Linked DNA regions of Homo sapiens. The protein of the gene in region 1 interacts with the protein of each later gene in a pairwise test. Each region holds a gene or a part of one and is shown in the gene's direction. Other genes may lie near its edges. The genes, in order: ZMIZ2, SCAMP1, BANP and TRAPPC6A.

What was found.
Region 2: the proteins of ZMIZ2 (region 1) and SCAMP1 interact in binary tests that used the Homo sapiens proteins (3 or more experiments, as listed by UniProt).
Region 3: the proteins of ZMIZ2 (region 1) and BANP interact in binary tests that used the Homo sapiens proteins (3 or more experiments, as listed by UniProt).
Region 4: the proteins of ZMIZ2 (region 1) and TRAPPC6A interact in binary tests that used the Homo sapiens proteins (3 or more experiments, as listed by UniProt).

Annotation. Positions count from the first base shown.
Region 1 is NC_000007.14:44,751,825-44,758,852, forward strand, and holds part of ZMIZ2 (zinc finger MIZ domain-containing protein 2), read left to right. Parts: intron 1-4,363; 5' UTR 4,364-4,425; coding exon 4,426-4,475; intron 4,476-4,600; coding exon 4,601-4,715; intron 4,716-5,122; coding exon 5,123-5,325; intron 5,326-5,553; coding exon 5,554-5,737; intron 5,738-6,023; coding exon 6,024-6,284; intron 6,285-7,028. UniProt on the Homo sapiens protein: Increases ligand-dependent transcriptional activity of AR and other nuclear hormone receptors.
Region 2 is NC_000005.10:78,355,739-78,363,620, forward strand, and holds the start of SCAMP1 (secretory carrier-associated membrane protein 1), read left to right. Parts: upstream 1-4,878; 5' UTR 4,879-4,933; coding exon 4,934-4,990; intron 4,991-7,882. UniProt on the Homo sapiens protein: Functions in post-Golgi recycling pathways. Acts as a recycling carrier to the cell surface.
Region 3 is NC_000016.10:88,073,406-88,077,816, forward strand, and holds the end of BANP (protein BANP), read left to right. Parts: intron 1-3,184; coding exon 3,185-3,256; 3' UTR 3,257-3,911; downstream 3,912-4,411. UniProt on the Homo sapiens protein: Controls V(D)J recombination during T-cell development by repressing T-cell receptor (TCR) beta enhancer function. Binds to scaffold/matrix attachment region beta (S/MARbeta), an ATC-rich DNA sequence located upstream of the TCR beta enhancer.
Region 4 is NC_000019.10:45,175,229-45,182,636, reverse strand, and holds the start of TRAPPC6A (trafficking protein particle complex subunit 6A), read left to right. Parts: upstream 1-4,399; 5' UTR 4,400-4,418; coding exon 4,419-4,502; coding exon of another isoform or gene 4,503-4,544; intron 4,545-7,408. Other genes in the region: BLOC1S3 (biogenesis of lysosome-related organelles complex 1 subunit 3), read right to left, coding at 2,732-3,340. UniProt on the Homo sapiens protein: May play a role in vesicular transport during the biogenesis of melanosomes.

The DNA of each region.
Region 1 (7,028 bases):
TGGTGGTGTACACCTGTAGTCCAGTTACTCAGGAGGCTGAGGCAGGAGAATCGCTTGAACCTGGGAGGTGGAGGTTGCAGTGAGCCTAGATCGTGCCACTGCACTCCAGCCTCGGTGAAAGAGCAAGATTCCATCTCAAAAAGAAAAAAAAAAAATTAAAGATTCATGTGCATTATAAGAAATGACACAGAGAGATTTATTCTGTCCTTTACCCAGTTTGCCCCAATGGTAACATCTTGGAAAACTAGTACAACATTGCACCAGGACACTACACTGATACAGTAAAGAGGTTACAGCCTGTTGCCTTCTATTTTTTTTTTTTGAGATGGAGTTTCACTCTTGCTGCCCAGGCTGGAGTGCAATGGTGCGATCGGCTCACTGCAACCTCCACCTCCTGGGTTCAAATGATTCTCCTGCCTCAGCCTCCTGAGTAGCTGGGATTACAGGCGCCCACCACTACGCCCGGTTAGTTTTTGCCCAGCTAATTCTTATGTTTTTAGTAGAGTTGGGGTTTCACCATGTTGGCCAGGCTGGTCTCGAACTCCTGACCTCAAATGATCTGCCCACTTCAGCCTCCCAAAGTGCTGGGATTACAGGCGTGAGCCACCGTGCCCAGCCTGTTGCCTTCTTATATTCACGCCCACCTTCCTCCTGCCAAAATTACAGAAATGGAGAAGAGATTAGTACCTTTCTCTTTACCCCCACATTTAACCCCTGGCAATCACCAATCTGTTCTCCATTTCCCTAATTTTGGTGTGTCAAGAATGCTAAATAAAGGAATCGTACACCGTGTAGCCTCTTGGGATTGGCTTTTTCCACCGAGCATTAATTCTCTGGAGATTCATCCAGGTTGTTGCATATATCAGTAGTTCATTCCTTTATATTGCATCCGGGCTATGGATGTACCACCGTTGATTTAACTCTTCATCCATTGAAGGACATCTGGGCTGTTTCCATTCCATAGCTCTTGCAAATAAAGCAGTTATAAACATTTGTGTACAGGTTTTTATGTGAACATAAGTTTTCATTTCTCTGAGATAAATGCGTACAAGTGCAGTTGCTGGGTCATAGTAGGGTAGCTGCTTGCTTAGTTCCATATGATACGGCCAGACTGTTTCCCAGAGTGGCTGTACATTTTACATTCCCACTAGTAATGTGTGAGAGATCCAGTTTCTCCTTGCCAGCATTTAGTGATGTCACTATTTTTTATTTTAGCCATTCTGATGGATGTATAGTGATATCTCACTGTGGTTTTAATTTGCATTTCCCCACTGACTAGTGATGCTGAGCATCTTTTCTTATGCTTATTTGCCATCTGTATATTCTCTTTGGCAAAGTGTCTCTTTATGTTTTTTGCTTATTTTCTAATTGGAGTTTTTAATTTTAATTTTTTTTTTTTTTAGTTTTGAGAATTCTTTTTTTGTTTTGTTTTGTTTTTTAAATCATGGTTCACTCTGTCATCCAGGCTAGAGTACAGTGGCATGATCATGTCTCACCCCAGCCTCCACCTTCTGGGGTCAAGTGATCCCTCCACTGCAGCCTCCTGAAAAGCTGGGACCACAGGTGCATGCCACCACGCCCAGCTAATTTTTAAATTTCTTGAGGAGTCGGGGGTCTCACTCTGTTGCCCAGACTGATCTTGAACTCCTGGGCTCAAGCAGTCCTCCTGCCTCGGCCTCCCAAAGTGCTGGGATTATAAGTGTGAGCCACTGTGCCTGGCTGAGAATTCTTTATATGTTCTAGATACTAGTCCTTTGTTGGATATGCAGCTTGCAAATATTTCTCCTGGCCTGTAACTTATCTTTTCATCCTCTTAGCAGGGCCTTTCCCGAAGGAAAAATTTTAATTTTGATGAAGTCCAGTTTATCAGTTTTTTTCTTTTATGGATCATGCCTTTGGTATCAGGTCTAAGAGCTCTTTGGCCTAGATCACAAAGATTTTCTCCTATATATTTTCCTGAATATTTTATAGATTTATGTTTTACAGTTAAATCTATAAACCATTTTGAGTTACTTTCTGTATAAGGTGTGAAGTTTAGGTGTTTTTTGTTTGTTGTTTTGATGCCCAGTTGCTCCATTGTCCCAGCACCATTGGTTGGAAAGGCTGTCCTTCCTCCTTTGAATTGCTCTCGCACCTTTGTCAGACATTGTTTGGGCCTATTTGTGCAAATCAATTTCAGATTCTCTGGTCTCGCCTGTTGGCCCATGGTTCTGTTCCCATGTTGGTACCACACAGTTTTGATTACCATATCTATATTCTAAGTCCTAAAATCTGTGTATGGCTGCTCAAGGCCCCACCCAGCAGTTCTGGGGAGGAGTTTCTGGCTGTTGGCAGGTTCCTCTGTCCCCCAACATCACTATTCCTGAGTCAGGCTATGGGACTGGGATTGCCACCCCTACCTTGCCTGGCTGGGCCATCTCAGCTCCCAGGCCTGTTCTTGCCTAGAGTCCAGGTGCCTGGAGCCTTCTGGAGCCATCAGCCCCTGGTTTTCTTCACCCCTGCTTCCTGGGCAGGACTTGGTCTGGGGGAGCAAGGGGAGGAGCCTATGGGCTGGGAATCAAGTCTTGCCTCCCCTGAGGGTGTGAGGAAGTCCAGAACACTGCCCTCTCCCTCTTCCCTAATTGGTACCCCCCAGTCCCAGTGCTCGGTGATGGGAAGATCCAGTGAAAGGCCACATGCTTAGACTCCCCAGGCAGAGCTCAGCTCTACTTCTCACCTGCTCTGGGGCCCTGGGCACACAGCTCGCCCTCAGAATCTCCAGGTCTATATTTTGAGGGGTGAGGCTGTTCCTACCTCCATTGGTGAGGCCCTCGGTCAGCACAAGAAATGGCAGCCTAGATGAATGCGGGGCCACCCTCTCCTGGGGCAGGGAGAGGCCATGTGAGTGCTGCGATGGCAGGATGGCACCAGTGGTCAGCACGCCTCAGGTGGCATGTCTGTGTGTGTGGCAGCCTTGTAGGCCCTAAAAGGGAGTAGTATCCAAGGCGAGCATGCCTGGGGACTCCTGAGAAACAGCTGAAGCGGCCTCTCCTGTGCTGCAGCCAGTGTTCCTCTGTGGATAGCCTAGGCAGGCAGAGGTGGACATGTCAGGTGGTCCTGGGAGTGTCAGAACCCAGGGTAGTGCCAGTGAGGGCCCTTCAGGGACACTCAGGGGCAGGGCTCCAGGGCATGTCTGGGCCTGCTTTGGTAAGGGGCTTGCTTGTGGCAGTGTCGGAAGGCGTGGCACTCAGAAGCAGCCTGAAGGTGTGGTCACTTCCGTGGCTTATTTACTAAATGGGGAGAGCAAACTTAGCGTGGCACATGTAAGTCCCATGGTGCCAGCACTGTGGTCCTGCATGCGTCCTCCCTGACACACCCCCTCTGCTGCCCTGTCCTGAGCACCAGGTCACTGGTATCCACTCAGCCCCATCTTGCAGAGTCACTTCAATGTCTCCCCAGCCCCTTTCTTAGAAACACTGGCCAAGTCACAGTCCCTGCCAGGTCTGTGGGTGCCCACCCTCCATCTATTGTGCTGTGTGTCCCTGCCCTCTCCTGGGGGTGTCATGGATGGGCCAGTGGGTCTGCCTGCCTGGCCCCTAGGACCATATCAGCCTCGGGCAGCCCCCACTTGGTGGAATCTGGGTCAGTTCTGAGGTGCCCTGGCCTGGAGCCCTTCTACTACCCTAAAGAGGGCCTTCTTGTTGGGAGGGGCTGCTAGCCAGAGCCCAGGTTACTGGCCCCACACCCCATTTCAGGAGGTATCCTGCATGTCCCTCCCCAAGGCCAGGATGGAGAGTTGTTGGTTGACCACTGCACTCCTGTGATCACCGCACCCCTGCACTCTCCTCCTCGGCTTTCTCAGCCCCTGGCCTCCAGAACCGCCTATGCCCCTACCTGGGCTACTCAGGGTAGACAAGACCTTTAGCAGGGAGTCCCCTCACCTCCACTGCCCTCTGTCCTTCACCCCAGGGCCTTCTGTGGGGTTACTGGCTACTGGCTCCTCTCTAAACCCCAGTTTCCACGGGGTAGCTAGGATTGTCCCTGGCTTTATAAGGATAGCCAGGCCTCGGTGTGGGCGGGAGAGTGGGGAAAGTATTTGGAATCGGGAAGTCCATCTCTAGGGCTGATCCAGGGACTCTGGGTGGCAGGGCCTGGTCAGAAAGGGTTCATGCTGGCCTCCAGGCTGTATTTGTGGGGGCAGATCCTCACCAGAGTGAGTGGGGTGGGTCAGTACTAGGCCCCTCCACTGCCTTGCCTGCCATCAGAGCCCAGGGGTCCCTTATTGAGAAAGAGGTGGGGCCTGCTGGCACCGGGGTCCCTCCACCCTGCTGAAAGGGTCTCCTGGCTGCATCGCAGCTAACATCCCTTCCTTCCTGTCGGGCAGCCAGAGCAGCTGAGTTCCAGATAAAAACTGTCAGACCCGGCCTGTAGGCTGCTCCATTGCCAATGAACTCCATGAACCCCATGAAACCTGCCCTGCCCCCTGCGCCACACGGGTGAGTGTGGGCTCCTCTGCCCACCCCTCAGGCCCTGGGGTTGGGGGTGGCATTTCTGGAAGATCCTAGACTCTTGGACACCAGTGGCTTCCTGACCCAGGCCTCAGCAGCCTCTTTCCCTGCAGTGATGGTTCATTCGCATATGAGTCTGTGCCTTGGCAACAAAGCGCCACTCAGCCGGCTGGATCGCTGTCTGTGGTCACTACTGTGTGGGGAGTTGGCAACGCGACACAGAGCCAGGTAAGCACCCACTGGTGCCCCACCCCCGAGCAGACAGAGCCTCCCAGCACTTGGCAGTGCTTAGTGCCTCCTCAGAGCTCTGAGAGACGAAGAGGCTGAGAGGTGAGGACAGAGAGGCTGAGGCATGACATATGAGGATGGGGCCTCCTGAGTCCCCTAAGTCTTTGGACACTGGTTCTCTTTCCACACCTGCTGTGGGATTTTCTTCTCCTGTCTTCACCTAGCCTTCACAAAATGCCCCAACCTCCCTGTGGACAGCTGCTTTCCCTGCTTCCCGTGCTATACCCTGTCCCCCCCACCTCTCCCCCAACCCACTTGCCAGGCCTGTTGGTTTCTAGCACTTTGGAGCTGCTGCATGAAGCACGTTGTTTGGCTGGTTCCCTTTGGTGATTCCTGCTTCCTCATAGGTTTTGGGGAACCCCATGGGCCCTGCAGGGAGTCCCTCTGGCAGCTCCATGATGCCTGGTGTGGCAGGGGGCAGCTCCGCCTTGACCTCCCCACAGTGCCTGGGACAGCAGGCGTTTGCTGAAGGCGGCGCCAACAAGGGCTACGTGCAGCAAGGCGTGTACAGCCGCGGGGGCTACCCTGGGGCCCCCGGCTTCACCACCGGGTAAGCAAGTTCCCTCACCTGGCAGGTATGCTAGGAGCCATCAATCTGGCAGGCACCTCAGAACTGTGGCGCTGATCAGCTGGACGTTCCCTCTCTGCTTCCTGACAGCTGTAGTGGAGGGTCTAGAAAGAATGGGCTCCCCCTGGGTGCTGCATGCCTCTGGGGTGAGCACAGTCCTGGCCCTCATGAGCCCACGCAGAGAGCGTGGCAATCCTGTGTCTCCTGCAGGTATGCAGGCGGCCCGGGGGGCCTGGGCCTCCCCTCACATGCTGCAAGACCCTCCACTGACTTCACGCAAGCGGCAGCTGCTGCAGCTGTGGCTGCTGCGGCAGCCACTGCCACCGCCACAGCCACAGCCACCGTGGCTGCTCTCCAGGAGAAGCAGAGCCAGGAGCTGAGCCAGTATGGAGCGGTGAGCCCCCTCAGCAGCTCCTCCCACATGGCAGCCAGCCTGAGGGCCTGGGAGGAGGTACTCAGCCAGACAGTGGGCTCCAGGGACAAGCATGGAATATGCCAGGGCTCATGAAGCCAGTAAAAGAGAGATGTGTGGGAAGGAGTGAGGGTCTGAGGGGAGAGGTTTCTGGGGTGTCCTGTGAAAGGGTATGGTGCCCACATGGGTGGGTGGGCGGGTTTTATGCCTATCTTTTGGAGCCCTTTGTGGGTGGGACCTGGACCATTCTTCTTTTTTCTCTTCCTAGATGGGGGCCGGACAGTCTTTTAACAGCCAGTTTCTGCAGCATGGAGGTCCCCGGGGGCCTAGTGTCCCCGCTGGCATGAACCCTACTGGCATAGGAGGGGTAATGGGCCCCTCTGGCCTCTCCCCCTTGGCTATGAACCCCACCCGGGCAGCAGGAATGACACCCTTGTATGCAGGGCAGCGTCTGCCCCAACATGGGTATCCTGGGCCTCCCCAGGCCCAGCCACTGCCCCGACAGGGGGTCAAGAGAACCTACTCTGAGGTGAGTGTCCAGGTCACCTAGTTTGGGGCCTTGGGTACCAACTCCCTCACCCAGGCACTCTTTAGAGCTGTGGTAAAGAGCAGGCTTCTGGCTGGGCATGGTGGCTCACGCCTGTAGTCCCTGCACTTTGGGAAACCAAGGAGGGTGGATCCCTTGAGCTCAGGAGTTTGAGACCAGCCTGGGCAACATGGCGAAACCGTGTCTCTACAAAAATTAGCCTGGTGTGGTGGCATGTGGCTGTAGTCATAGCTACTTGGGAGGCAGAGGTGGGAGGATCGCCTGAACCCAGAAAGTTGAGGGTGCAGTTAGCTGTGATCGCTCCCCTGCACTTCAGGCTGGGCAACAGGAGTGAGACCCTGTTTCAAAAAAAAAAAAAAAAAGCAAAAGCCGGGCATGCTGTCTCATGCCTGTAATCCCAACACTTTGGGAGGCTGAGGCAGGTGGATCACTTGAGATCAGGAGTTCAAGACCAGCCTGGCCAATGTGGTGAAACCGCATGTCTACTAATAATAGAAAAAATTAGGCCGGGCGCGGTGGCTCACGCCTGTAATCTCAGCACTTTGGGAGGCCAAGGCGGGTGGATCACGAGGTCAGGAGTTGAAGACCAGCCTGGCCAGCATGGTGAAACCCCATCTCTAATAAAAATACAAAAAGCATTAGCCGGGTGTGGTGGCGGGCGCCTGCAGTCCCAGCTACTTGGGAGGCTGAGGCAGGAGAATTGCTTGAACCCAGCAGGCAGAGGTT
Region 2 (7,882 bases), on another chromosome or scaffold:
GCTGAGGGTTCTTTCCAGCTTCAGAAGCCACTCACATGCCCTAGTTTAAGAACCCCTTCCTCAATCATCAAAGTCAGCAACTCTTCTGCTTTCCTCTTCCACTTTCAAGGACTCGTGATTACATTGGGCCTACTTGAATAATCCAGGATAATCCCCTCCTCTCAAGGTTCTTAACCTTAATTACACCTGCAAAGTCTCTTTTGCCATGTAAGGTAACATATTTACAGATTCTAGGGATTATAGCATGGACATCTTTGGGGGAGGGGAGGATTATTTGGCCTACCACACAATGCCTGCACCTCCTCTGTTATTGCCTGAAAATGTAGCCAGTGGCAGAATAGGGAGCCAGATAGGCTGGTGCTGGGGCGTCGAGGGTATCAGCAGACACAGCAGCAAATCTGGAGACTAGACCCACTGTAAGAGATGATGGATTTCAGTTCTAATCCATCAGTGAACCCAGAATCCAGTGAACCTTTTGAGGCAAGAAACGTAAATATCTAACTTGGCATTTTCCTAGCATTCCCCAGCTATAAGCTAGGCAGTTTAGAAAACAAGGAATTCAGACTCTAGACCCTGCTCAATAGGTTCACCAATTAAAAGTGTCAGTCTGAGGAGAAGCAGCATGATGATGATGGGAGGCACACTCTGAGGGGAAAAGAAACAGGGTTAGGGAGGAGTGAGCCACTGTCCCAGATTAATAGAACGTTAGAACTGTCCAAAGGATCTGAGATATCCTTTAGCCATGTTCTAGGCCTTTTAGGAAGTTTTCTGGAGCAGGCCTTACGCTTTATACCTGGTTTACTGCTTTATCCACAACATCACTGTTTTAGTTGCTCAAGAAATACTTGAATGATGTACTAGAGTAGAAACTCTGGTTAGAAAGGTGAGTTGATATGTTCAAGATCAAACGGTTGGTTTGCAGGAGAGAGGGCATAGACTGGTTTTGAGTCTTTGTTCTACCAAATTTAGGAGGTACCTTCCGTAAAATGAACTCCTGCACCAAATGAGGCTTCTTGTATAATTTCTCTCTACCTTGCACATAGCATTTCTTCCTTCTATATGAAATTATTCATATAGAATAATTCTATTCATTTAATAACCTATTTATTTAATGTCTAAAACATTAGTCAAGAGACCTGAGTTCTGTTCCCTGTTTCCCCATTCACTTCCTTGGTGTCTGAGACAAATTACTTAACCTGTCCAAACTCCAGTTTCTTCAATCATGAGAGAGGCTGAGGTTCCTTCTCAGCTCGCACATTCTATAATTCTAAATTTCATGGAGGCTAATGAATTAATAAGCTCCCTGCTATGGTTTGGGTATGGCTTTGGACCTGCAAAGTGTCATGTTGAAATATGAGTCCCAGTGCTGGAGTTGGGGCCTGGTGGGAGGTGTTTGGGCCATATGGATGAATTCCTCACAAATGGCTTGGTGCTATTCTCCTGAGAGTGAGTTCTCATCCTTGAGAACAGGTTGTTCAAAAGAACCGAGAGTCAGCTTCTCCCTTTCTCTCCCCTGATGCCCCATCTTGCACTGTAGCCATGTGATCTCTGCACGAAGTCTCCCCTTTGCCTTCTGCATGAGTGGAAGCAGCATAAGGCCCTCATCTGAAGCTGACAGCCTGCAGAACCATGAGTCAAATAATCCTCTTTTCTTCATACATTATCCAGCCTCCCGTATTCCTTTATAGCAACACAAACAGATTAAGACCCTCACCCATGGACCATATGTCTGCATGTCCTCATATCAGTGTTCCCAAAAGTGTGATCAGCCACCACCAAAGTCATCTCAGGTTGGCCAAGCATGGTGGCTCATGCCTGTAATCCCAGCACTTTGGGAGGCAGAGGTGGCCTGGATCATTTGAGGTCAGGAGTTCGAGACCAGCCTGGCAAACAAAGTGAAACCCTATCTCTACTAAAAATACAAAAATTAGCCGGGTGTGGTGGTGCATGCCTGTAATCCCAGCTACTCGGGAGGCTGAGGCAGGAGAATTGCTTAAACAAGGGAGGTGGAGGTTGTAGTGAGCCACGATTGTGCCACTGCACTCCAGCCTGGGTGACAGAGTAAGACTCGGTCTCAAAAAAAAAAAAAAAAAAAATCACCTGAGATCCTTTACATATGCTGATTTTTGCAGTTGTTAAGAATAATGAATCAGATATATGGTTTCCATTAGGCCATGCTTCCCTTTTCACTCTATAGGCATGCTACACATAAAAAGTGATAATATTTATGTGGCATACTAGGGGAAGAAACCTTAAGACTGTCTCTCTGACAATGCACATCTTGCTGAGAAATTCTGCCATACGTATTGAGAAAAACAGCTGCAGAAAAATATACATATGATCTAACTTTTTCAAGACAATGCCAAAGCTCAGTATTAGAGTGTATGCATATCTGCATGAATATGTATTGTTTTTATACAATTACATGTTATTTTATGTAAGTGCAGATATACACTATTACAAGAATATTTAAAGAAATGTACTAGGTTGTTAATGTAGGGGAAGAGAAGAGGGAATACACGGAATAAAAATTTTTGTAAGTGAAAAATTCAATATGTATGTCATGACTCCATTTATACATTTATGTAAAATAATGTATAGAGATGTAAAAAATAAAAAATGCAGATCCAGAGCCCCTACCTCAGATCCTTTCAAGCGTAATCTTAGCAATAGGAGGTATGGTAAGGTGGGTGTCTGCATCTTCAACAGGTATTCCAAATGATTCTATAACAGTAAAGTCTGTAAACCTTTGCATTAGGTGCAAATATCATTAGCTGTAAACAGAACATAGTTGGAAATTTCCATCCTGCAATGCGGGCTCAGCTGACCCTCATTGTCTTGGAACATAGTAGATGCATAATAAATAGTGCAGATTATTTTGAGTCATTTGGAGGACAGGTGGAGGGAGTGAGGGCAAAAGTGGTGAGAGAAGCAGATGAGCTGGGCAAGGACATGCTTGCTCAGGAGAAGGGAGGCAAAGCGTATAAGAACATACTGAGCCTCCTTGCCACTTTCGACGTTCAACCAATATTTGTTAGGCACTAAATATACATGCAGGACACTTTTCTGTATGTTGTTTCATTTAATTCTTAAATAATCCTTTACAGACTCAGAGAGGTGAAGAGAGTAGCACAGGTAGTATCAGAATTGGGATTCAAACCTGACACATACACTGAGCACTAAGTTAAAACCGGGCACTGGGCAGCTGCTGAGGATGCGATGGTGAGTACAACAGACTGCTTGCTCTTTTTGATATCTAGAATCGTACAGCTCTGCTGTGCTCATCCTTGTCTGTTGTCATTTACTAGTTGACATCTTCGTTGACTACCTAGAAGCAGCTGCTTCGACATCTATCCCAACCTGAATCCCGTCAAAGGGAGATTACAACAAATGTGCTTTTTGTCTATCATCTCTAGCTAGTGTTTCACAGTGGGGGGAGTATCATTTCCTGGGTGACTTTGCATAGAGCAAGCTCCCCAAAGGCCAAGGAATACTCAATCTAGATTCTTCCAATCCTCCGGTACCCACCAAGTCAAAAGAATTCTGGCTCCCTGTAGCTTCATCTAAGTGCTTTTCTGTTAGAGGAGAAAAGTGAGGAAAGCGATGCTCTTTCAATAAGTTCGGCAGGGTGGGGCAAGGAATGGTACAAATTGATTTTTTTTTTTTCTTGAGACAGAGTCTCGCTCTGTCTCCCAGGCTGGAGTGCAGTGGCCCGGTCTCGGCTCACTGCGACCTCCACCTCCCGGATTCAAGCGATTCTCCTGCCTTAGCCTCCAGAGTAGCTGGGACTACAGGCGTACGCCACCACTCCCGGCTAATTTCTGTATTTTTAGTAGAGACGGGGGTTTCACCATATTGGCCAGGCTGGTTTCGAACTCATGACCTTGTGATTCGCCCGCCTCGGCCTCCCAAAGTGTTGGGATTACAGGCGTAAGCCACCGCGCCCGGCCGGTACAAATTAATTTAACACATCTTTTGATAATCTCATCCTTGGTGTTGGAAAAGACGGGAAAATCCAAAAGTGTCTATTTTGTGCCCAAATGCTCAAGTTAATACTCGAGGGCCTTGATCTCTGGCCTCTTGCCATCCCTCTCCCCATTATTTCTGAAGAAGTAGCCATTTTGCAGATTCCGGAGGATGGGAGCCACGGCCGGCCCCTGGTACTGAATCTCATCTCCTTCTCAAGGCTCCTTGGATCAAGTTGGGACCGGCAGCGCCAAGGCTGCTCTCCGTGATTTAGCAGCAACCTAGAGTCAGAGAGACCGGAAGATGGGAGGCCGGGATTCTCAGGTGGGGTCAGGGGTATGCAAAAATCCTTAGCAGCGGCCGCGCCCCCGCCCCGGGGAGGTAATTTGCGGAGGGCGGTGCAGTAGCCTCTCCAGTGCCCGCGTCCCACGGTCTAACGGCACTGCTCCCGGGGTGCGCGGCCCACGACTCAGGCTGCCTCCCCCAACCTGACAAGTGTGCGTCCTTACCACAAAATGCCACCACTTCCCTAAGTGACGCTGGGCCCCGAGGACCTGATTTGAAATCGGTGTTCAGAAGACCGAGCCCGGCTGGACGCAGCTGGCCTCCGGCTGAGAGCGGAGGGGAAGGGTTCCATACTCTCCGAGGATCCCGCGGGCTCGTGGCGTGTGGAACGCTTTTCATCGCTTTCAGTTCCCGTTTCCTTCGCCCCGACTGCCTACTCGGTCGCAGCTAAAGCCCGGAGCGTGGGATCCGGGCCCGGAGGAACGGGATGGCGAACGCGAGCTGCGCCGCGGCCAGGAGCCCGCCGCACCGGGCATGCTCAGTGGCGCGGCCGGCTGGGTGGCCCGCGAGCTGCACCCGGATCTGCTCGGCGGCGGCGACGTGAGCGCGCAGGGGGGCGGCGGCCTCGCCTCGTCTCTCTCTCTGCGCCTGGGTCGGGTGGGTGACGCCGAGAGCCAGAGAGATGTCGGATTTCGACAGTAACCCGTTTGCCGACCCGGATCTCAACAATCCCTTCAAGGTGAGCTTCGGCCCCAGCATCTCCTGCCGCCGCGACGCGTCGTTGTTTGTGAAAACGGACGAGTTCCTTCGCGCCCACTGCGTCTGCCCCTCGGCTCCCCTTAGCAGCCCAGAGAGGGGCGCGGGGCCGCCGTCCTCCATTTGGGGTCGCGCCCCGGCCCCGTGTCACTCCTTTGGGTTTTGGGGCTTGGGGGTGGAACCTCCTCAGCTCGTGCCCGGTCGCCCTTCCACACGTCCCCGACTGGTGAGGGTCGTGTCTGCAGCCGGGACTGGGCCCGCGCGCCCGGAGGGGTCCTGGCCCGCCTCTCAGGAGAGAAAGCCGAGGGCAGGTAGAGTCGCCCCTTGCCAAGCAAGTGTGGCTGGCAGGGCCGGGAGTCGGCGGAGGGGGGCCCGCCCTGGGGTGGGGTTGTCATGGGGACCCGAGGTGGCGGCGGCGGAGAGCTGCGTGGGGTGATGGCAGAGGTGTGGAGGAGGAGAGAGGTGAGGGCACCGAGTATGCTGCAATTAAAAAAAAAAAGGTTATGTTTTTATTTTTTAAACTTGTGTTGCACCCAAATACCACCAGTGGCGCTGCCATCCCCCCTCTTTCTGTTAGGTTGAGGTTGAGGTTATTGATACCAAAGCAAAACTTAAAAATAAACATATCTGGAAAACAATAGTGCACGTGGACGACCTCTTCCCTACCCAGCTGCTTCTAGCAAGGTAAACGATGGGATATTTTCCAAGCTCCTAGTGCGTCACCGGTTCTCTGGGCTATGTGAGGATACCATTTCCTACTTGAGCTGCTTTTCTTCTTGGAGTCGACCTTATCAACCCCGGCTTCGGAAGGGCTTGGCACAGAATCCTGCAAAGGAAGGCGGCTGAGATATTCATCGTCTGCGTTTAAATGAATGCAACATCTAAATAACTCTCTCTTTGAAAGTATTCTGAATTTCCTAATGAGTGTAACTGTTAGCACGTGTAATTTGTTTCCAACTGTTGGTTGAAGTTGTTTCTCAATCCCCCCGGCCATGTGCAGTAGTAACTTTAATTTGCAGTCACACAGAATAAAACAGGAACTCTAATTTGTGGTCACACAAGTGTCACTTCTGGCTTGTTGAGTTTACATCTTTTTACTCCTGGTTTTATCTTTCATTAAGAATCCTGGAAGAGGAAAACTATTTCTGCTCTGATTATTAAATGCCTGATAATTCCAAGGAGGATTATTTTAATGAAATGACCCTGATTATTATTGACAACTCGACTCACTTTGTAGCAGTGTAGAATTAGACTCAGTCACTGTTTCATTGTCCCTAATGTCACTTAAAATTCAGTACAACTGGCCTGTACCTTTCAGTGACATGGTTGCATTTTAAGACTTTTTTTTTTTTCCTGGCAGTTTTGTTTCAATTAGTATTGGACTTGCTTCCATGTTGTGGAAAATCAGGTAGTTCTTAAATGGTAGACTTTCTAAAGAGACCGTTCATAAATTGTTAAATGGGTGTTATTTTAAAATATTTTGAAGATAAAACATCAAGAACCTTTTAGCCTTTCCTAATTCAGATAATTCACTGACGCTGTTTATTCAGCATCTGACGATTTGGCAGTGTATTTTCTACTTGGTCATTCCATTTCATGGTTCATTTCATATTAACTGGCTCTCTTGTTAGGGCAAAACATTGTCTTCATCTTAGCCCAGACTGTCCTTTTGTGACATCTGATATTGCCATGACACTTTTCCTCTTCTGACATTCATAAAGTTGCTGTAGTAATTCTAAACCCAGGAGTTGTTTTAAATATTCATTGTGGCATAACGTTATAAATCTTTTTTGTTCTTTTATAAGTGGATGTATCCAGGACAATGATTATTCAAGTTTGTAAAATGCATCAGGGACAGATCATTTAGGTCTAAAGTAGACTTGGTTGTACACATATTTCTGCTTATGATCTTTCTCTGTTTTTGGTGACTGTTATAGCACTGTCAGTGTATCTGACCCTTTATTTTTCCATTTATGTTCACCTGCCCCTCCTCCTCACAAAGTATAGTTTTATATCTATATTTTGTCTTTTTACTTCTGCTTATATTTATGTAAAAGTGATTTTTGAAATAACATTTCTGATACTCTACTTAAATCTGAAATGTTTCTAGAATCATTTGAGTTACTTTATGATCATTTTTCTTTTTTTACTTTTTTTTTTTTTTTGAGACGGAGTCTTGCACTGTTGCCCCGGCTGGAGTGCAATGGCGTGATCTCAACTCACCACAACCTCTGCCTCCCGTGTTCAAGTGATTCTCCTGCCTCAACCTCCCTAGTAGCTGGTATTACAGGTGCCCGCCACCACACCCGGCTAATTCTTTGTATTTTTAGTAGAGACAGGGTTTCATTGTATTGGCCAGGCTGGTCTTGAACTCCTGACCTCGTGATCCACCTGCCTCAGTCTCCCAAAGTGCTGGGATTACGGGCGGGAGCCACTGCGTTCAAGCAGATCGTTTTTCTTTCTTTCTTTCTTTCTTTTTTTTTTTGAGACGGAGTCTCCCTCTGTCGCCCAGGTTGGAGTGCAGTGGCGCGATCTCTGCTCACTGCAAGCGCTGCCTCCTGGGTTCACACCATTCTCCTGCCTCAGACTCCCAAGTAGCTGGGACTACAGGCGCCCGCCACCACCGGCTGATTTTTTGTATTTTTAGTAGAGACGGGGTTTCACCGTGTTAGCCAGGATGGTCTCGATCTCCTGACCTCGTGATCTACCCGCCTTGGCCTCCCAAAGTGCTGGGATTACAGGCGTGAACCACTGGGCCCGACCCATTTTTCAAATCTGTTTTTATTTGCAGTATTTGAAGATAAAGCTCTTATTTTCAAGTATATGATATTTCGCATTTGGTAACTATGCTAATTTCTTTTTCATTAAATCCTAT
Region 3 (4,411 bases), on another chromosome or scaffold:
TGTACTCTGCCCATGGGCGCGGTGGCCCCCGCAGAGGCGCGCCCTGTACTCTGCGTGGTGTTTGGTTCCACATTGTCGCCGACCTCACTGGAGATGCGCTGGAAGCACGGTGAGGGCCATGGGCGCAGAACGCACAGGCAGTGAGGAGCGGGTGGGTGGGATGGTGAAGGCAAACTCGTTCGGCAGCGCTTATTTTATGTGGTGTGAACCTTGGCCTGTCCGTGAAGAACAGTCAGGCGTGGCTGCCTCAGCCCCTGCCGAGGACGCGTGGCAGCCCCCCGTGCCGTTCCAGATAGGAGCGCTGCAGGAGGGCAGTGAGGTCCGCGCCCAGGAAACTAGATGTGGGGGCCATGCCTGAGGGCGTCCTGCTGCATTATAAGTTTCTGGTCATTTTCCGATTTCAGAATTGAACAAACCTGTGTCCCATGGTTGGTGTTTACACCCCTAGCTTCCTGTAAGCTCTCTCTGTTACCATGCCCTCCTGGCAGGCCCCAGGTGAATGATTTAATTAGGATCCATCGTAACAGCCAAGGAAGACGGCGTGCTTAAGGGGCCGCTTTCCCTGCAGAAAACCCCAGCGTGGTTGGACTTGGTGGTGAGCGGGTTTGCCCATCTGAGGCCAGACAACTGCAGGGTGCGTTAGCTTGTCACCAAGGGCCCAGCTCTCTGCCTTACCATCTCAGCTTGTCCTCAGGCTAGCTCTGCCCCACTGGGAAGTGACCGAAGGCCTTCATGGTGACTCTGCAGGCGTGACTGCACCCAACAGAGACAGGTTTCTGGTTGAGCCTCCTTATCCACATGAAGCCCCCACCCCAGTCATGCTTGGGAATGGTCTTGCATCTTGCATGGGTCAGAGCAGGGTCACGCGCTTGAGCTCGTTCTAGGAAAACCTGTGGCTCAGCTGTGAGGGCCTGGCTCTGAGAAGATGGGTTCCCTTAGGAGGGAAGGCAGGTAGCTGGCCTGTGGGGGTGGCCAATCCTCAAAGTGGAGAGTGGGGCCTGTTCCCTGGAGCAGTGGGTTGGGAGGGTAGGGGGGTGCCATTTGCAGGGGAAGACACTTGTCTTAATGCGCGGTGGCCTGTGGGTGTCACAGGCTCCCTGAACCATCTGTAGCAGAGGCAGCACCTCCACCAGCCTCTGCCCAGAACACAGGTCTGGCCACTGTCCTTGGAGGGCAAGTGAGTCCCAGCCAGCCCAGACCTGTGCCCCACTGTCCCCACCCACCCAAGTCCCCAGCTGCCTTTCCAGCTGTCTGGGGGAAGGGGCTTTGCATCCCAGGCGGTGGCCCCCCTACCCCAACCTCCCATGGCCTTCAGCCACCCACCCCAGGGCCCTGGTGTGGCTCCTCCATTCCAGCTGAGGTTCACCCCTTCCCGTTAGGCCTTCCCAGCTGTGGCCGGGCTCGCAGGAGACAGTCCTCATACTGACCCCTCATCCTACCCTGGAAGGCCCCTCCTCCATCCAGGGAACAGTATATCGAGTGTCATTTGACATTTGTCTTGAAAAAGCACAACCTGGACCAGGTGCAGTGTTTCATGCCTGTAATCCCAGTGCTTTGTGAGGCCGAGGCAGGGGCGTTGCTTGAGCCCAGGACTTCAAGACCAGCCTGGGCAACGTAGCGAGACCCCCATCTCTACAAAACGTAAAAAAATTAGCTGGGGCCGGGCACGGTAGCTCACGCCTGTAATCCCAGCATTTTGGGAGGCTGAGGCAGGCCAATCACCTGAGGTCAGGAGTTCGAGACCAGCCTGCTCAACCTGGTGAAACCCCATCTCTACTAAAAATACAAAAATTAGCCAGGCATGGTGGCAGGTGCCTGTAATCCCAGCTGCTCGGGAGGCTGAGGCAGGAGAACTGCTTGAACCCGGGAGGCGGAGGTTGCAATGAGTCGAGATTGCGCCACTGTGCTCCAGCCTAGGTGACAGAGTGAGACTCCGTCTCAAAAAAATTTAGCCGGGCGTGGTGGTGTGCACTGGTGGTCCCAGCTACTTGGGAGGCTGAGGTGGGAGGATCACTTGGGCCCATGAGGTCGAGGCGGCCGTGAGGTGTGCTTGCACTACTGCACTCCAACCTGGGCAACAGAGCAAGACCCTATCTCTAAAAAATAAAATGAAGCAGGACCTTAACTAGAGTAGAAGTTGCCAGGCCTCTTCCTCCCGTGGGCTCGGCCGTGGGCTCGTGGCTTCTCCTGGCTCTTCCTTTGTGGTTCCTGTGCCTTCCAGCTGAAGCTTCTGGGAGTGTGCACGGCAGCCCTAGAGTGGGCTCCTCCACCTGGGGCGTGTTCCGTGTGGCTGAGCTGGAGGATGAGTGACTTATTCCAAGACTGTATGTTTTTCCTTTACTTTTTTTTTTTTTTTTTTGAGATGGAGTCTGGCTCTGTTGCCCAGGCTGGAGTGCATTGGTGCAATCTCGACTCACTGCAACCTCTGCCTCTTGGGTTCAAGTGATTCTCCTACCTCAGCTTCCCTAGCAGCTGGGACTACAGGTGTGCACCGCCACACCGGCTAATTTTTGTATTTATTGTAGAGACGAGGTTTCACCATTTTGGCCAGCCTAGGCTTGAACTCCTGACCTCAAGTGATTCACCTGCCTCAGCCTCCCAAAGCCCTGGGATTATAGGCATGAGCCACTGCGCCCGACCTCCTTTAACTCATTTTAAGATAAAGCTGTGATTTCGTACTTGAAGTCCTTTTAATATCTGTAACTCGTTGACCAGAACCTGTATCTTTGAGGGAAGAATCATAGCTGCCCCGAAAATCCTTTGTTGAAACATTGGGACAGTGTTTATAGGAAGGCAAAATGGTACCTGAAGCTTCAGGGAAATATCTTCGGGAGGGCCAGGATGTTCTCCACTTCCAGGTTACTTCCCAGTGAGGCAGCGGGTTGGGGGTGGAGAGGCAGGAGCAGCTGCTGCGCCGGCCCCGGTGACGGAGTCCATGTCGGGGGCGGGCCGGGGCCTGGGTGTGCCGGAGCCTCCCTGGGCGCCAGGGTCGTGGGCGCGTCGTTCCGCTGGGAGCCAGGCGTTGTGTACCAAGTCGGGTGAGCCTTGGGGCCGTCAGGGCTCCTTCGCGCTCCTGTGTGCGTGTTTCTCATTCTGCCTTAAAGTCACTGGCTGTTCATGACACCCCCTGGCCATGCAGTGCTGGGTATTTTTCTAGAAAGTCCCTCCTTTCTCCCTTTTGCAGACGGCCGAAGCCCTGCAGCCCACGCTACAGCCGGAGATGCAGCTCGAGCACGGGGCCATCCAGATTCAGTGAGCGGTGCCCATGGCACCAGGAGCCCCTCGCCGGCTCCGCCTACGGCCCGGCCCCCACGCGCCCTGCTCTCACGGCCTCGGCACAGGCAGCGGCTGCACGTGTTCTGCTGAAGTGCGTCTGAAGGCCGCTGCCTCCGCGGGGAACAGCATCCTATCAACTGAAAGAGCAGCCGCCGCCGCCCCCAGCCGGAGACCCCTTTCGTTTGAGTCCTGCTGTTGGTGTCGGAGCACGAGGGGAGGCACGGTGCGGAGAGCGTCGCATATGCGCGGGAAATCAAGAACTATGATATTTTTCTGTTTAAACAGCTTTTTTTAATTTGCTATGGTGTTTATAACAAAAAAGAAAATTTGAAAAAAAAAATCCCAGGGGAGTAGCAGGAGCCCTTTGCTGTGTGCTCTGTCCAGTGTCATGAGACGGGAGCCCTTTGCTGTGTGCTCTGTCCAGTGTCATGAGACGGGAGCCCTTTGCTGTGTGCTCTGTCCAGTGTCATGAGACGGGAGCCCTTTGCTGTGTGCTCTGTCCAGTGTCATGAGGCAGGTGTTTGCAAAGCCAGCTCTCGGTTCCGATGGGGTATTGCTGACCTACTTTTCTAGGGGAAATGCTCTTAAACACTGTAATTATGCATTTCTAATGAAATAAAATGTATTTATGACCACAGCAGCCTTACGCTTTTCCTCCTGCGAGACGGTTCGCCAGAGAGTGCCTGTCCCTGGGGGGTTGGGCTCGCTGGCCTTCAGGCCACGCTGCTGCCCTCTCCACTGTGCAGACAGTAGGTGTGGGCACCCCGGGACAGTCAGTTCTGTTTCCGTGTTGTAGGCACTGCCGAGGGGAAACCTGGTTTAGGACACAGCTGTGGAACTTCTTGTTCTCATAAACCACAGAGTTCTGCCAGCTCCAGAAGGCACAGTCCTGGGGTCCTTAGAGAAAGTTGCAGCCACAGGGGCAGGCCCTACTATTTACAGATTTTTTTAAGGCAGAGATAATATCTGCAAATAGAAGTGCCAGAGGCAGTTGAATCCCTGGTGACCAGCCGGGCCTGGACTGCTTCACCTACACCGTTGTGGCAGTTGCGTTAGGGGCTTGGGAAGGGCCTACGTGAAGCCGTGTTCGCTGACTTAGAGCGGGGCCTCTCTGGGCTTTCTCTGGGAGGAGTTC
Region 4 (7,408 bases), on another chromosome or scaffold:
GATGGAGTGCAGTGGCATGATCTCAGCTCACTGTAACCTCCACCTCCTGGGCTCAAGCGATTCTCCTGCCTCAGCCTCCCGAGTAGCTGGGATTACAGGCATGTGCCACCACGCCTGGCTAATGTATTTTTAGTGGAGATAGAGTTTCACCATGTTGGCCAGGCTGGTCTAGAACTCCTGACCTCAGGTGATCTGCCTACCTCGATCTCCCAAAGTGCTGGGATTAAAGACATGCGTAACTGCGCCTGGCCTATTTATTTTTGAGACAGAGTCCTGCTCTGTCGCTCGGGCTGGAGTGCAGTGGCACGATCTTGGGTCACTTCAACCTCTGCCTCCAGGGTTCAAGCGATTCTCATGCCCCAGCTCCCTGAGTAGCTGGAATTACTAGCACGTGCCTCGGCCTCCCAAAGTGCTAGGATTACAGGCGTGATACATCGCCCAAAATTTTTGTATTTTTAATAACTACAGGGTTTCACCATGTTGGCCAGGCTATCATCTCTATTTTTAAAAATTAAACTATAAATTATGATTACTAGAACTATCTATGAGAACATCTTATTACTGTTTCTCCCACTGGACTGCGACCTCTGTGAGGGCAGGGACTGGGTGCTATACCCCTAGCCGCAGCACAGGTCAGGTACCCAAAACGTGTGTGTTGAATTAATAAAATACGAGTAAATACAGAACCAGGGCAAAAATCTAGGGCCCCTGATTTCCCAACTACAGCTTCACCTTCCATAAGCCAGGCATGGAGGTCTCGGGACCCCCATTCTCAGAGAAATCAACCAACTCACCCTTAGCTTAGATAGGGAAACAAAAGGAACTAACCATAAGGGTAAATGCTTAAGAGTTTTAATCAGTCCGCCATAAAAAGCTCCTCCCCATTCTCCATCTTGGGGGCTCAGATCTTGGCTTCGGGTTGAGATGAGGGACAGGGATATCAGGCTGGGAGAGGAGAGTAAATATGAATGCGGCTGAGGGACCAGAGCTGGGATCGGAAGAAAACACAGGTGAAAAGGAGCAGAAAGAGACTGCTAACCCCAGTCCCTGAGCCAAGTCAGAAATCCAAGTCCTTTTATAGCATCCAGGAGCCAAATGTAGTGAAATCCACACATCATATCGTTCTTATCTGCAAAGTGCTGTCATCTGGCGCTGAAAGCACCAGGACTGGGCTGAATTGGGCCCGAAGTGCCTGAAGGGTGTCACTTTAGGTCTGGAGAGTCAAGAGGAGACGCCACCTTGGCCTACAGAGTTGAGAGCGAGCATCATCTTGGCCTGGAGGGGTGTGCAGGAAATGCCACCTTGGTCCAGGGAGTTGGGAGGAAGATCCCCTGCCTTGGGTTAAGAGGGGCCATCATTTTGGGCCTGCAGAAGGAAGGAAACCATGGGGAGTCCCCAGACCCCAGGATCAGGGAGGTGTAAGTAGGATGGAGACAGTAAAAGAAAGCAAAACCTATCCCACGACACTGCTGGACTTGGGAAACAGAAATCAGGCTGAGAGGGCGGGGCTAAGCTCAAAGGGGAGGAGGCAGGAGGCAGATGGGAGAACAAAAAGTAGAACCAGCACACGGAACCAGGGCCAAGCTTGGGCAGCAGAACAAGGACCCAGCTGGCTAGGCGCAGTGGCCCACGCCTGTAATCCCAGCATTTTAGGAGGTGAGGCGGGTGGATCACCTGAGGCCAGGAGTTCGAGACCAGCCTGGCCAACAAGGTGAAACCTCATCTCTACTAAAAATATAAAAAGTAGCCAGGCGTGGTGGTGCATGCCTGTAATCCTAGCTACTCGGGAGGCTGAGGCAGGAGAATCGCTTGAACTCGGGAGGTGGAGGTGGCAGTGAGCCGAGATCACGCCACTGTACTCCAGCCTGGGAGACACAGTGAGACCCTGTCTCTAAAAACAAAACAAGGACCCAGCCTAGGGTGAAGGCAGTTCTGGAAGTGGAGCTAGGATGGGAGGCGTAGCCAACTGAGTGAAGGAAGACGGCAGGGAAGCTGTGCCACATCCTGGGTTCTTGTGGGAAGAACGGGAACAAGCTCCCCACCATAAGCAGAAACCAAACTCAGAAAGGCAGAGCAGAGCCCAGTGTGTGGTGGCTCACACCTGTAACCCCAGCACTTTGGGACGCCACAGTGGGAGGATTGCTTGAGCCCGGGAGTTTGAGACAAGCCTGGGCAACATAGTGAGACCTTCTCCCCTCTTCAAACCGACAGAAAAAAATTAACCGGGCAGCTGGACGTGGTGGTGCAGGTCTGCAGTCCCAGCTACTCTTGAAGGCTGAGCTGGGAGGATCACTTGAGCCCAGGAGGTCGAGGTTGCAGTGAGCAGTAATCCCGCCACTGCACTCTAGCCTGGGTGACAGATAAACACCCTGTCTCCAAAAAAAAAAAAAAAAAAAAAAAATTGGTGAGCCCCCAGGGTGGAAACAGATTAAGGAGCAACTATGTAACAAAGGCTGGAGCCAAGCCCCAGGGGAAGGCTCAGAACCAGGCGGCAGGGTCAGGATCGGGAGAGGAACCAGATCTAAGGATAGTGGGGCCCTGGTCTCCGCAGTAGGGGTTGAACTATATCCAATATAAAGCATTATCCAAGGGGACCGGATTAGCCCCCATGGGTGACACCAAGATGGGAGCGGGGGTGGGGGGTGATAAGAGACACAGGAGACAGAGTCAGGTCCCAGAGGCAGCAAGGCCTACCCCCAAATTGCAGTCAGGTTGGGAAGTAGAATCATGGCTAGGCCCGCGGCCCCGGGTCTTTCTCAGGCTCGGTCCCTGGCACGCCGCGGATGTCCGGCAGCAGGCGGCAGCCAGCCACGATGTCCAGACGCTCGGCCAGCGCACAAAGGTCCCCGCGCGCCAGGCGCACGCTGTGGGCCGCCGCCAGCCCCGCCGCCTGGGCTGCCGCCAGCCTACTAGCCAGGGCGGCCACGTCGCGGCCTGCACGGCGGTAGACACCGCTCACGGCGGCCGCCACGTCGTGGTCCAGCCGCGCCTGGCTCTCCGCCAGCCGAAGTTGCAGGAGCGAGCGCGCGGGGGCGGGCGCCGGGGCCTCCTCCGTGCCCCAGGCCTCCTCCGCCGATTCCCGCTGCACCACGAGTGGAGGCAGGTCCCTCGGCGCGGCCGTCGGTTCCGGCTCCGGCTCCGGCTCCGAGTCGGTCTCCGCGGCTTCCCCAGCCACCCGCAGCCCCGTGGGGCGGCCGCGCGTCGGGCCCGAAGGACCCAGGTACAGCTCCTCCTCCTCCGACGAGGACGCAGAGCGCTCGGAATCCGTCTCGGTCGCCTCCCCCGGCACCACCGTCTCCGGCCTCCGCAGGGGCCTCCGCCGACGACCCTGGGACGCCATGGCACCGAACTAGGGGAGAAGAGCGAAGGGACTGCACGTGAGACCGGCGCCGCGGTGGGTAAAAGGCGCAGGTCCTGGATTCCCAGCCCCTTCGCTGATTCTCTTAACGACTTGGTGTCAGCTGCTCCCCGTCTGGGCCTCAGTTTCCTCTTCTGTAAACTGGGTGATGATGGGGGTTACTGGACCCCAGGCTCTTCAGCGTACAGATGGGGAAACTGAAGACCAGCTCGAACAAGGATCTGGGGCCCGAGTTCCCGGAGTCCCAAGCCGAGGTCTTTACGAATTTGCCTCCTAGTAGAGGCCACACCCTCCACCTGGTCCACCATGCCAATCTCAGACCCGGAAGCACACGGGCCCGTGAGCTGCTCGGGACCAGCGCCAGAGTCGCAGAAAGGATGACAGTCCGACTGGACTCTGCTGGGGGCACTCATGGGATGGGAGAAGCGCTAACGCCAAAGACCGTACCCGGCAGCTGACGCTCGGAGCTTGCGAGATCCGCTTCCTAACCCGAGTGCTGCGTTCTCACCGTGGCAGCTGAAGGGCTGTGATTTCAACCAATAGGGGAGCGGGTTGGGCGGGCATTAGCGGCCAAGTCACGTGGATTCGCCCGGCTACCAATCAGGAAGCAAGTTCTCAGCATCAGCTTTGAGTGAGCGTGCAGAAGAGTCACATGAATGGAGGAACCGCCAATAGAGAAACAGCTGGGCCGGCTCTTCCAGGTTGTGCGACGAGGAAAGTCTGGAGTGGACCAATAGGGATTTTAAAAGCCGAGTATGTCACGTGTAACCAGTAATTTGGCCAATAGGAATGCTCGAGAACCCGGAAATAGGGAAGGGACGGCAGTAAGAGCAGAAGATGTTGCCACATGTGGCCAGAGAAGGCGTAGGCCCGCCCCCTAGTGTCCCAGGCTCACGCGCACACCACCTGAGTCCGGGGCGGGGAGGCGGGGCTAGTCTAAAACACCAATGGAAGCCGGAGTAGGAGGGCTCGCGCCATGACGCAAGAGGCGTGGCTTACCAAGCCTGGCCAATGAGAGCTGGAAGCGCTGGGCGCATCTTTAGGCGTGCGAGGAGGGGGCATGGCGGATACTGTGTTGTTTGAGTTTCTTCACACGGAGATGGTGGCTGAGCTGTGGGCTCACGACCCCGACCCCGGCCCGGGGGTGAGCGCCGGGCTCCGTGGGGAGGAAGCGGGGGCCACCAAGGTAACGCCTCTGGGAGAGCGGAGGGCGCGTCAGGCGTCCGGGTTCGAACCCGGCCCAGCCCCGGCCTTGCAGGGCAACGTCTGGCCCTGGCTTCCTCCTTTGGAAAGTGGCGTTCGCGACGGTGCCGGCTCGGGGTTATTGCTAAATTGAGCGCGATGATTCAGGGTAAAGCACTTAGCTCAAGGCCTGAGTAAGCGGCTAGTAATCATAATAATGCTGTTATTGGGCGTGTGCTGAGGACTCGCCTCCCCCACTTACTAGGTGTGCGACCCAATGACTTAATCTTTGTGTGTCCTAGTTTTCTCTTTTGTAAAATGAGTATCATAACGTACCTAAGCCTCAGCGTGGGACATTTATTTATTCGACACCCACTTATTGAGCGTCTGTTGTATTCCAGGCACCGTTCTAAGACAGAATCCCTTCCTTGTGAAGCTTACATTTCACTAGGGGAGTCAAATAATAAAATGAAATATGCCGGCTGGGCGCTGTAGCTCCCAGCACTTTGGGAGGCCGAGGCCGTCGGATCACCTGAGGTCAGGAGTTCAAGACCAGCCTGGCCATGGTGAAACCCCGTGTCTACAAAAATTAGCCGAGCATGATGGCGGGTACCTGTAATCCCAGCTACTCGGGAGGCTGAGACAGGAGAATGGCTTGAACCTGGGAGGCGGAGGTTGCAGTGAGCCAAGATTGTGCCATTGCACTCCAGCCTAGGCGACAGAGCGAGACTTGTCTCAGGAAAAAAAAAAAAGAGATAATGGGGTTTTGCCATGTTGCCTAGGCTGGTCTTGAACCCCTAGGCTCAAGTGATTCTCCCGCCTGGGCCTCCCAAAGTGCTAGGATTACAGGCGTGAACTACCGTGACTGGCCCGGGACTGTGTGTGTGTGTGTGTGTGTGTGTGTGCGCGCACGCGCATCCTGCTCGGTCGCCCAGGCTGGCTGGAGTGCAGTGATGCAGTCATGGCTCACTGCTGCCTCGACCTCCTGGGCTCAAGCGATCATCCCACTTCTCAGCCTCCCAAGTAGCTGGGACCACAAGCGCTGCTGGCGCCACCACACCTGGCTAATTTTTTGTATTATTATTATTTTTTTTAGTAGAGACGGGTTTTCACTGTTAGCCAGGATGGTCTCCATCTTCTGACCTCGTGATCTGCCCATCTTGGCCTCCCAAAGTGCTAGGATTACAGGCGTGAGCCACTGCACCCGGCCAATTTTTTTTTTTTTTTAGTAGATACGGGGTTTCACCATTTTGGCCAGGCTGGTGTCGAACTCCTGACCTTGTGATCCACCCGCCTCGGCCTCCCAAAGTGCTGGGATTACAGGCGTGAGCCACCGCACCTGGCCATGTAAGACATTTTTATTGGCTCTGGTTTCCTTCCAGGGTTAGAAGCCCCAGGGAGGATGTTGCTTGTTACCATCTCGATATACAGATACAAACCTGTCATAAGTTTAAAACATCATAAATCAAAAATGCATTTAGCCAGATGTGGCGACTTGCACCTGTAATCCCAGGTACTCAGGAAGCAGAGGTGGGAGGATCACTTGAGGCCCACCGTTCAAGACTAGCCTGGGCAACATAGCAAGACCTCACCTCTAAAAGAAATTTTTATTTTTATTTATTTATTTATTTTTGAGACAGAGTCTTGCTCTGTCGCCCAGGCTGGAGTGCAGTGGCGCAATCTTGGCTCACTGCAAGCTCCGCCTCCTGGGTTCACGCAATTCTCCCGCCGCAGCCTCCTGAGTAGTTGGGACTACAGGTGCCTGCCACCACACCCGGCTAATTTTGTTTTTTTTTTTTGTATTTTTAGTAGAGATGGGGTTTCACCATGTTAGCCAGGATGGTTTTGATCTGACCTCGTGATCTGCCCGCCTCGGGCTTCCAAAGTGCTGGGATTACAGGTGTGAGCCACTGTGCCTGGCCAAGAAATTTTTAAAATTAGCTGGGCGTGATGACACATGCCTATACTACCAAGAACTCGGGAGGCTGAGGTGGGAGGATTGCCTGGGCCCAGGAGTTCAAGGCTGCAGTGAGCTATGATCATGCCACTGCACTCCAGCCTGGGTGATAGAGTGAGACCCTGTCTCTAAAAAAACATGGGGATTACTCAGTGAACCATCAAAAATTTTTGGACTCTTGGAGCTTTGTCATCATTGGAGGAGACAGACAAGTAAATGAGTAAAGTGTCTGGTACATTGTGTAACTGCTATGAGGAAGATACAGCATGGCCCAGGGAGTATGCATCAGCCTGGGGGTGGGTAATAATGTCCCAACACTCCATATCCTTCCTGGCTTTCAAACGAGAAACCCTGGAGTCCCAACACCTGCCTTGTCTCCCTCACCTGCAGCCCTCCCCCAGGCTCTGCCCAGTCAGTCTAAATACCTTTCTCACGTGGCCCCTCCTCTGCCCTGGTCCAGTGCTTTCCGCTCTCCTGTGAAATGAGCCTGCTCCCTTCTCCCAGCCCATTCCACCTGTCACATCTTCACCATGCTAACAACTATTAATCCTTCAGATCTTAGCGTAACAATCCCTTCCTCAGGGATGCCTTCCCTGAGCCCCCAGTCAAATTTGGATCTCCTTTATACATTCTCCTGGTCTCCCTCTCGCACTTTTTTCTTGGTAGGCTTCATCATACTCAATAAGGATGTATTTGATTTTTTTTTTTTTTTTGAGACGGAGTCTCGCTCTGTCGCCCAGGCTGGAGTGCAGTGGCGCGATCTCGGCTCACTGCAAGCTCCGCCTCCCGGGTTCATGCCATTCTCCTGCCTCAGCCTCCCGAGTAGCTGGAACCACAGGTGCCCGACACCACACCCGGCTAATTTTTTTTTTTTTTTTTGAGACAGAGTCTCGGTCTGTCCCCCAGGCTGG